Homo sapiens: one gene and its partner. The protein of the gene in region 2 interacts with the protein of the main gene of each other region in a biochemical or structural test. Each region holds a gene or a part of one and is shown on either strand. Other genes may lie near its edges.

Evidence for each region.
Region 1: the proteins of GOLPH3L (region 2) and EBAG9 form a complex in vitro, tested with the Homo sapiens proteins (one study listed by BioGRID).

The regions. Positions count from the first base shown.
Region 1 is NC_000008.11:109,543,054-109,546,882, forward strand, and holds part of EBAG9 (receptor-binding cancer antigen expressed on SiSo cells), read left to right. Parts: intron 1-3,829. UniProt on the Homo sapiens protein: May participate in suppression of cell proliferation and induces apoptotic cell death through activation of interleukin-1-beta converting enzyme (ICE)-like proteases.
Region 2 is NC_000001.11:150,658,865-150,662,693, reverse strand, and holds part of GOLPH3L (Golgi phosphoprotein 3-like), read left to right. Parts: intron 1-765; coding exon 766-880; intron 881-3,829. UniProt on the Homo sapiens protein: Phosphatidylinositol-4-phosphate-binding protein that may antagonize the action of GOLPH3 which is required for the process of vesicle budding at the Golgi and anterograde transport to the plasma membrane.

The DNA of each region.
Region 1 (3,829 bases), on a different chromosome or scaffold from region 2:
TGAACTTGAGTAAACCACTGGTTGGGATGTTTTTGACAGAAGTATTTAAATAACTCGAGTACAATTTTTAATATTCTGGTTCTTTTTTTTTTTTTTTTTTTTTTTTTTTTTTTAACAGTCACTGTTCTTTTCATCCTGTCAATTAGTAGGCCACTTCCAGGTTAGGCATTCAGTAAATCTTTCAGCTTATATGGAGAGACAGCCTCCATATGTACAAAACTACTTGAGTATTGCTAAGGTAACATTTTAGAGCCCTGTCTTTGTACCTTAATAGCCTACAAGCCCCTTCTGACCCTAGAAATAGAAAAGACTAGTGTGCGTTTTGCCTTTCCTTAGAAGAAATTGGCAATGATGCCTTTACAGAGCAATCAAGATCAGATACTATGAGAGTTAAGTATGTTTTTCTGGCTTTCTGATTTTGTTTTGTTCTTATTTTTTATGTGTTTGTTTGGAACTTTCGTATTGAGGTATAGCATACAAACAGTACATACAGTCAAGTATGTGGTGTTACTACTCAGATTGAGATATTAGATCTTAGCTCTCTAATGCTTCAGTATACCCTATCAGAGATGACCATTTTTTTTTACTATATAATTTTTAACCTATTCAATGTAATATTTTATTAGGTAAAAAGCTGCTTTTTTCAAGACTTTAGGAGTCTTGAATCCCCATGAAATGCATTTTTAAAAAGCATGGGCTGGGCATGGTAGCTCACACCTGTAATCCCAGCACTTTGGGAGGCTGAGGCAGGCAGATCACTTGAGGCCAGGAGTTCGAGACCAGCCTAGCCAACATGGCGAAACCCCGTCTCTAGTAAAAATACAAAAATTAGCGGGTGTGGTGGCATGTGCCAGTAGTCTCAGATTTGGGGGTGGCTGAGGCACGAGAATAACTTGAACCCAGGAGACAGAGGTTGCAGTGAGCCAAGATTGTACTGCTACACTCCAGCCTGGGTGACACAGCAAGACTCTATCTCAATTAAAAAAAAAAAAAAAAAAAAGTATGTTATAGTACAGGGATGGTGTATTTATCCAGGATGATTTTACTCCTTATGTTTCTAAATGTTATTGCTTATCTTATGCTCATGTAAGGTAATTAAAAAACTAATTAACATTTCAATTTTAAAAAGGTATATAGCTGTCCCTTTAATGTGGTCACATGATAATTATTACTTAAGTTAGGTTTTATCCGCTTTTAAGTAAGTATGTGTAGAACTGAAGTCCAAATATACTGCTTGTGCTTTTTTATTCTGGGAAAAAAAACTATCAAATTACTGTATGTTTTTTCTTTTTGTTTTAAGAAGTCAGCACTCTAAATAATTGTATTAATCAAGTGTTGTGATTGTTTCTAAAGGTGTTACTAATGGATTGAGAGGCCAGTCTGTTTTAGTTGTGATTTTGTTATTACCTGGTTGTTTCACCTTGAGCAGAACCGTTAACTTCAGTGTATCTTAGTTTCCTCATTTAGAAAATTTAAGAAGTTGGATGACGTATTCTCCAGCTGTTCCAATGACAGGAATCATGATTCTGAATACATAGTAATTCTCCTCCTTTGACAAAGAGAAGGCAAGGAAAAGCTAAGACATGAGATTCCATTATCAGTAATGTTATTCCTGTAAGTGTGTGCACATATGCACACACATATGTATGTTTGCCTGTGTATTTCTTGTGACTTGATTTAACATGTGGTCTGTTCTACCTCTCAACAGTGGAAAAATGACTATCTCTAATGGATTAACAGATTTTTTTCCCTCTTTCGTGTGTATTTTGAGGCTCTTAGTCGGGACATTGTCATAGTTACTTAAGTTTTCAACTTTAACTTGTGCCAAAACTCATCTTAAGAAATTTTTAAAATTAAATAGTGATTATTAGGGTAAATATATGCAGTACATATATAGTATACAATATATGCAATACATATATAGTATAGGTGACTAAGATGTATAAGAAAAATTTGGAAATTAAGAACCATGTTTAAAAAGGATACAGACCGGGCGTGGTGGCCCACACCTGTAATTTCAGCACTTTGGGAGGCTGAGGGGGTGGATCACTTGAGGTCAAGAGCTCGAGATTAGCCTGGCCAACATGCTGAAACCCTGTCTGTACTAAAAATACAAAAATTAACCTGGTGTGGTGGCAGGCACCTGTGGTCCCAGCTACTCAGGAGGCTGAGACAGGAGAATTGCTTGAACCCGGGAAGCGGAAGTTGCGGTGAGCTGAGATTGCACCATGGCACTCCAGCCTGGGCAACAGAGCGAGACTGTGTCTCAAAAAAAAAAAAAAAAAAAAAGGCTACCAAAATAATGCCAGTTTTACCTTTTTTTTTTTTGAAATGGAGTCTCACTGTGTTGCCCAGGCTGGAGTGCAGTCATGTGATCTCAGCTCACCGCAACCTCCGCCTCCCAGGGTTCAAGTGATTGTCGTGCCTCAGCCTCCTGAGTAGCTGGAACTACAGGCATGTGCCACCGCACCTGGCTAATTTTTGTATTATTAGTAGACGCGGGATTTCACCATATTGGCCAGGCTGGTCTCGAACTCCTGACCTCGTGATCTGCCCGCCTCAGCCTCCCAAAGCGCTGGGACTACAGACGTGAGCCACCGCGCCCAGCATAGTTTTATCATTTTTAGAATCTTTATTCCTATCATTGCTATGGCTGTAGTTTTCAATTCCTATATCATCTCTTTCATAAAGACATATATCTTGTTATTTAATCATAGGGAGGCAGTATGAGTGTGATATTTAAGGACTGAGACACTACAACCAGACTCTTTGGGTTCAAATTCCAGTTCTATAACTTATCAGTTCTGTATCTTTGGCAGCTTACTTAACCCCGCTGTGCCTTAGTTTTCTTATCTGAAGTAGAGACAAAATAGTACTTGCTTCAAGTCCTTCCCAGGGTTGTTGTGAGCATTGAATGAGTATTACATGTTAATCACTAAGAAGAATGCTTTTTATGAAATATAAAGTAAGCTATTACAGTATATTGAAATGCTATTGTGAAATCAGATTTCTGTTTTTAGAGAAGTTCTGAAATAATGTTTCTTTTCACTAATTGTCCTAGTTTCCTAATGGAAGTTGGCTTTCTAGAAAGTAACAAATAATTGATACAAGATTATGATGGTGTTAATGAGTTTTTAAAACAGTATTCTAACCAGAATATGAACACTGTTCTAATTTAAGTGACATAATATTGTTCAAAAATGTCTTCGTGTAGATTGTTTTAACAGCTCTTTTGAGCTCTAATTGAAATGCAATAAACTGTATATAATTAAAGTATACAATTTGATTAGTTTTGATGAATATATATACACTCACCTATGAAACCACCACAACTGAAGCCGTAAGTATATCCATTACCTCCAAAAGTTTCGTCATGTCTGTCAGTGATCCTTCCTTCCCACTTCTCCCTGCCTCATTACAAGGCACTGCTGATATTTTCTGTCACTCTATATTTGTTTATAATTTCTCGAGCAACCTTGTCCAGTCTGCTGCCTGTGGGCCTCATATAGCCCAGGATGGCTTTGACTGCAGCCCAATGCAAATTAGTAAACTTTCTTAAAACATTATGAGATTTTTTTGCAATTTTTTTAGGCTTATCAGCTCTGGTTAGTGTTAGTGTATTTTATGTGTGGCCCAAGATAATTCTTTTTCCAGTGTGGCCCAGGGAAGCCAAAAGATTGGACACCCCTGTTCTAGAGCTTAAAAAATACTATATATGGAATCATACAGTGTATATTTTTTTGGTGGTCTGACTCTTTTCATTCAGTATAATTATTCTGAGATATAGTCATGCTATTACTTGTAACAATAGTTCATTCCTTTTTATTGC
Region 2 (3,829 bases):
ACACTGTTTCCTTACTTCTCCATTTCTTAACATCCAAGTCTCAGTTTGTATCACTTGAGTGATCTTCTGTCCTTTCAGAGATATCATTTACCTTTATAGCTTCGTCTGTCACCTTCATGAGATTAATTTTCAAATTTCTAGGCAGGTCTTGTTTTTCCACCTCCAGAAACATATTTAACTATTGGCTAGAAATTTCAACTTGGCTATCCCATATCATTTAAAACCAAACTTAACAAAAATGAAAGAAAACCAAATTATCAACCTTTCCCCAAAACTGACTTCCTTTTCTGACTTTCCTGCCTTTGTTTATTTATTTATTTATTTATTTAAATTTTTATTTTTTTAATAGAGAAAAGATTTTGCCATTTTGCCCAGGCTGGTCTCAAACTCCTGAGCTCAGGTGATCCACCCGCCTCAGCCTCCCAAAGTGCTAAGATTACAGGCATGAGCCACTGAGCCCAGCTGTTTCCTACCTTTATTAATGGTTTCAAAAGTTGGTTTCCAGACTCAAAATGAGTTGTTATTGAAACTTTTCTCCATTATCATTCATATCCAGTTTGTCACTAGGGCCCACTTCAAATGTTATTTTTGTCTTTGCACTATCACTCCATACTATATTTTAAACTTCTTGAGGACAGAGACAGTATATTATGCTTCCTTACATTCTTGCAATTTTTAACCAGTAACATATACATGATATATTGAAAGATTTTAACTTGAATGAAGTGAAGGAATCAGGGTTCCTTCTTTCTCCTTTTCTCAAAGGTACTGCTAAAGTCAGACAGCCCAACAGGTGATGTTTTACTGGATGAAACTCTGAAACACATCAAAGCAACTGAACCCACAGAAACTGTCCAAACATGGATAGAGCTACTCACTGGTAAGATGACTTAAAATAATATATGAATTTCACACTTTGTTATCTTTATCCTACCCTGAAATTTAGTAAAAGATGTACCGAAATTCATCGTGCTGGATGAGATAGATGTGGTTCACTATTTAATTCTAATGAGGGACAGAAAAAGCATGGTTAATTGATACCTAAAGTTTTCCAAAGCTTCACCTTATCTTCTGCCACCCCACCCCAAAAGCCCTTAAATAGTATTCTTCACAAGAAACTTTTAAAACATCTTTATTGAGAGGACAATGAGAATATTGGCATTGATGCAGTCTATTATTCTTATTAGAATTTCCCAGTTTTAATTTGCCAAATAATATTTTATTGCATGGCCATACCACATTTGTTTATCCAGTCATCAGTTGATGAATCTTTGAGTTATTTCCACATTTTGGGTATTGTGAATAATGCTGCTGTGAACACGCACGGACAAGTTTTTGTTTGAACATGTTTTCATTTCTTGTGGGTATGTAGCTAGGAGTAGATAACTGGGTCATATGTAAATCAACGAGTAACATTCTTACTGTGGTAAAATATACATAACATTTATTATTATTATTATTATTTCGAGATGGAGTCTTGCTCTGTCGTCCAGGCTGGAGTACAGTGATGCAATCTCAGCTCACTGCAACCTCTGCCTCCCGGGTTCAAGCAATTCTCCTGCCTCAGCCTCCCAAGTAGCTGGGATTACAGGCACGTGCCACCACGCCTGGCTAATTTTTGTATTCTTAGTAGAGACAGGGTTTCACCATATTGGCCAGGCTTGTCTCGAACTCTTGACTTCGTGATCTGCCCGCCTTGGCCTCCCAAAGTGCTGGGATTACAGGCGTGAGCCACCGCGCCCAGCCAACATTTATTATTATTTTAGCCATTCTTAAGTGTACAATTCTGTGAAATTAAATATATTTGCAATATTTTGTAACCGTCACCTCTATCTATACTATACCCAAAGCTTCCTCATCATTACCCATTAAAACTCTGTACCTATTAAATGATAACTTCCTCTTTCTCTCTCCCCCCAGTCCCTGGCAACCTCTATTCTACTTTCTTTTTCTATGAATTTGCTTACTCTAGGTACCTCATATAAGTAGAATCATACAATATCTGTCATTACTTTCCCTAGCTTATTCACCAAGCATAATGTTTTCAAGGTCCATTCATGTCACAGCATATATCAAAATTTCATTCCTGTTTATGGCTGAGTGATATTCCGTTGTATGTATATAACACTTTCGTTTAACCATTCATCTGTTGATGGACACTTGCCTTGTTTCCACCTTTTGGCTATTGTGAATAATGCTGCTGTGAACATTGATACACAAATATCTGTTCAAGTTCCTGTTTTTAATTCTTTTGGATATATACCTAGGAATAGAATTGCTGGGTCATATAGCAGTTTTATGTTTAACCTTTTGAGAAATCACCAAACATTTCCACAGAGACTGCACCATTTTATATTCCCACCAGTATGCACCAGGGTTCCAATTTGTCCACATGCTGATCACCACTTGTTCTTCTCTTTCTTTTCTTTTTTTTAATTATAGACATCCGAGTAGGCCTAAAATGTTATCTCATTGTGGTTTTGATTTTTATTTTCAAATGAAAATAGTTTTCATGTCATTCCTAATGACTAAAAATATTGAGCATATTTTTATGTGCTTACTGACCATTTATATATCTTCTTTGGAGAAATATAAAATACTTTTCCCATTTTTAAGTTTGATTGTTTTGTTGTTGTTGAGGTTTTTTTGTATTTATTTATGAGATGCGGTCTCACTCTGTCACCCAGGATGGAGTGCCGTGGTGCAATCTCGGCTCACTGCAACCTCTATCTCCCGGGCTCAAGGATCCTCCCACCTCAGCCTCCCAAGTAACTGGGACTATGGGTGCGCACCATCACACCTGGCTAATTTTTTGTGTTTTTGGTGGAGATGGGGTTTTGCTATGTCACCCAGGCTGGTCTCTGAACTCCTGAGCTCAGACAGTCTACCCATCTTGGTCTCCCAAAATGCTGGGATTACAGGCATGAGCCACTGTGCCTGGCCAGAGGTTCTTTATATATATTCTGGATATTAATCTTGCCGAGACCAGCTCAGTTGTGGAGACCCTAACCCAGTGGCGCTAGAGGAATTAAAGACACACACACACAGAAATATAGTGTGGAGTGGGAAATCAGGGGTCTCACAGCCTTCAGAGCTGAGAGCCTTGAACAGAGATTTACCCACATATTTATTGACAGCAAGCCAATCATAAGGTTTACTAAAAGTATTCCTTATGGGAAATAAAGGGATGGGCCGAAATAAAGGGACGGGCTCTGGCTAGTTATCTGCAGCATGAACATGTCCTTAAGGCACGGATCTCTCATGCTATTGTTTGTGGTTTAAGAACACCTTAAGCAGTTTTCCGCCCTGGGTGGGCCAGGTGTTCCTTGCCCTCATTCCAGTAAACCCACAACCTTCCAGCATGGGCATCAAGGCCATCACAAGCATGTCACAGTGCTGCAGAGATTTTGTTTATGGCCAGTTTTGGGGCCAGTTTATGGCCAGATTTTTGAGGCCTATTCCCAACACGTCCCCCTTCTTTGTTTTACAAAGCAATAAAAGCAAAGGCAGCTTTGTCAAGGTGAGCTACTTCTCACAGAAGTCAGGATCCACACCTGCAGACTATACAGAGACAAACAACACAGATTAATAACACAATTATCATTGAAATCAAAGGGCTTCCAAGTGTTTTTATCCATTTTAATGGGTTACTAGCTGTTAATCTGTCTGCAGCTCCTTCAAGCACTCCAGTTCCTGGCATTAAGGTCAGGTGTGCCTGGGATGCTTTAAATATTTGTTCTTTTAATTTTGCAATATCCAAAGACAAGTTTGTAGAGTGTCCTTTTAGATGGTTTTTTATTCTTTCCCAAATTTGGATCTTATTAAGAGC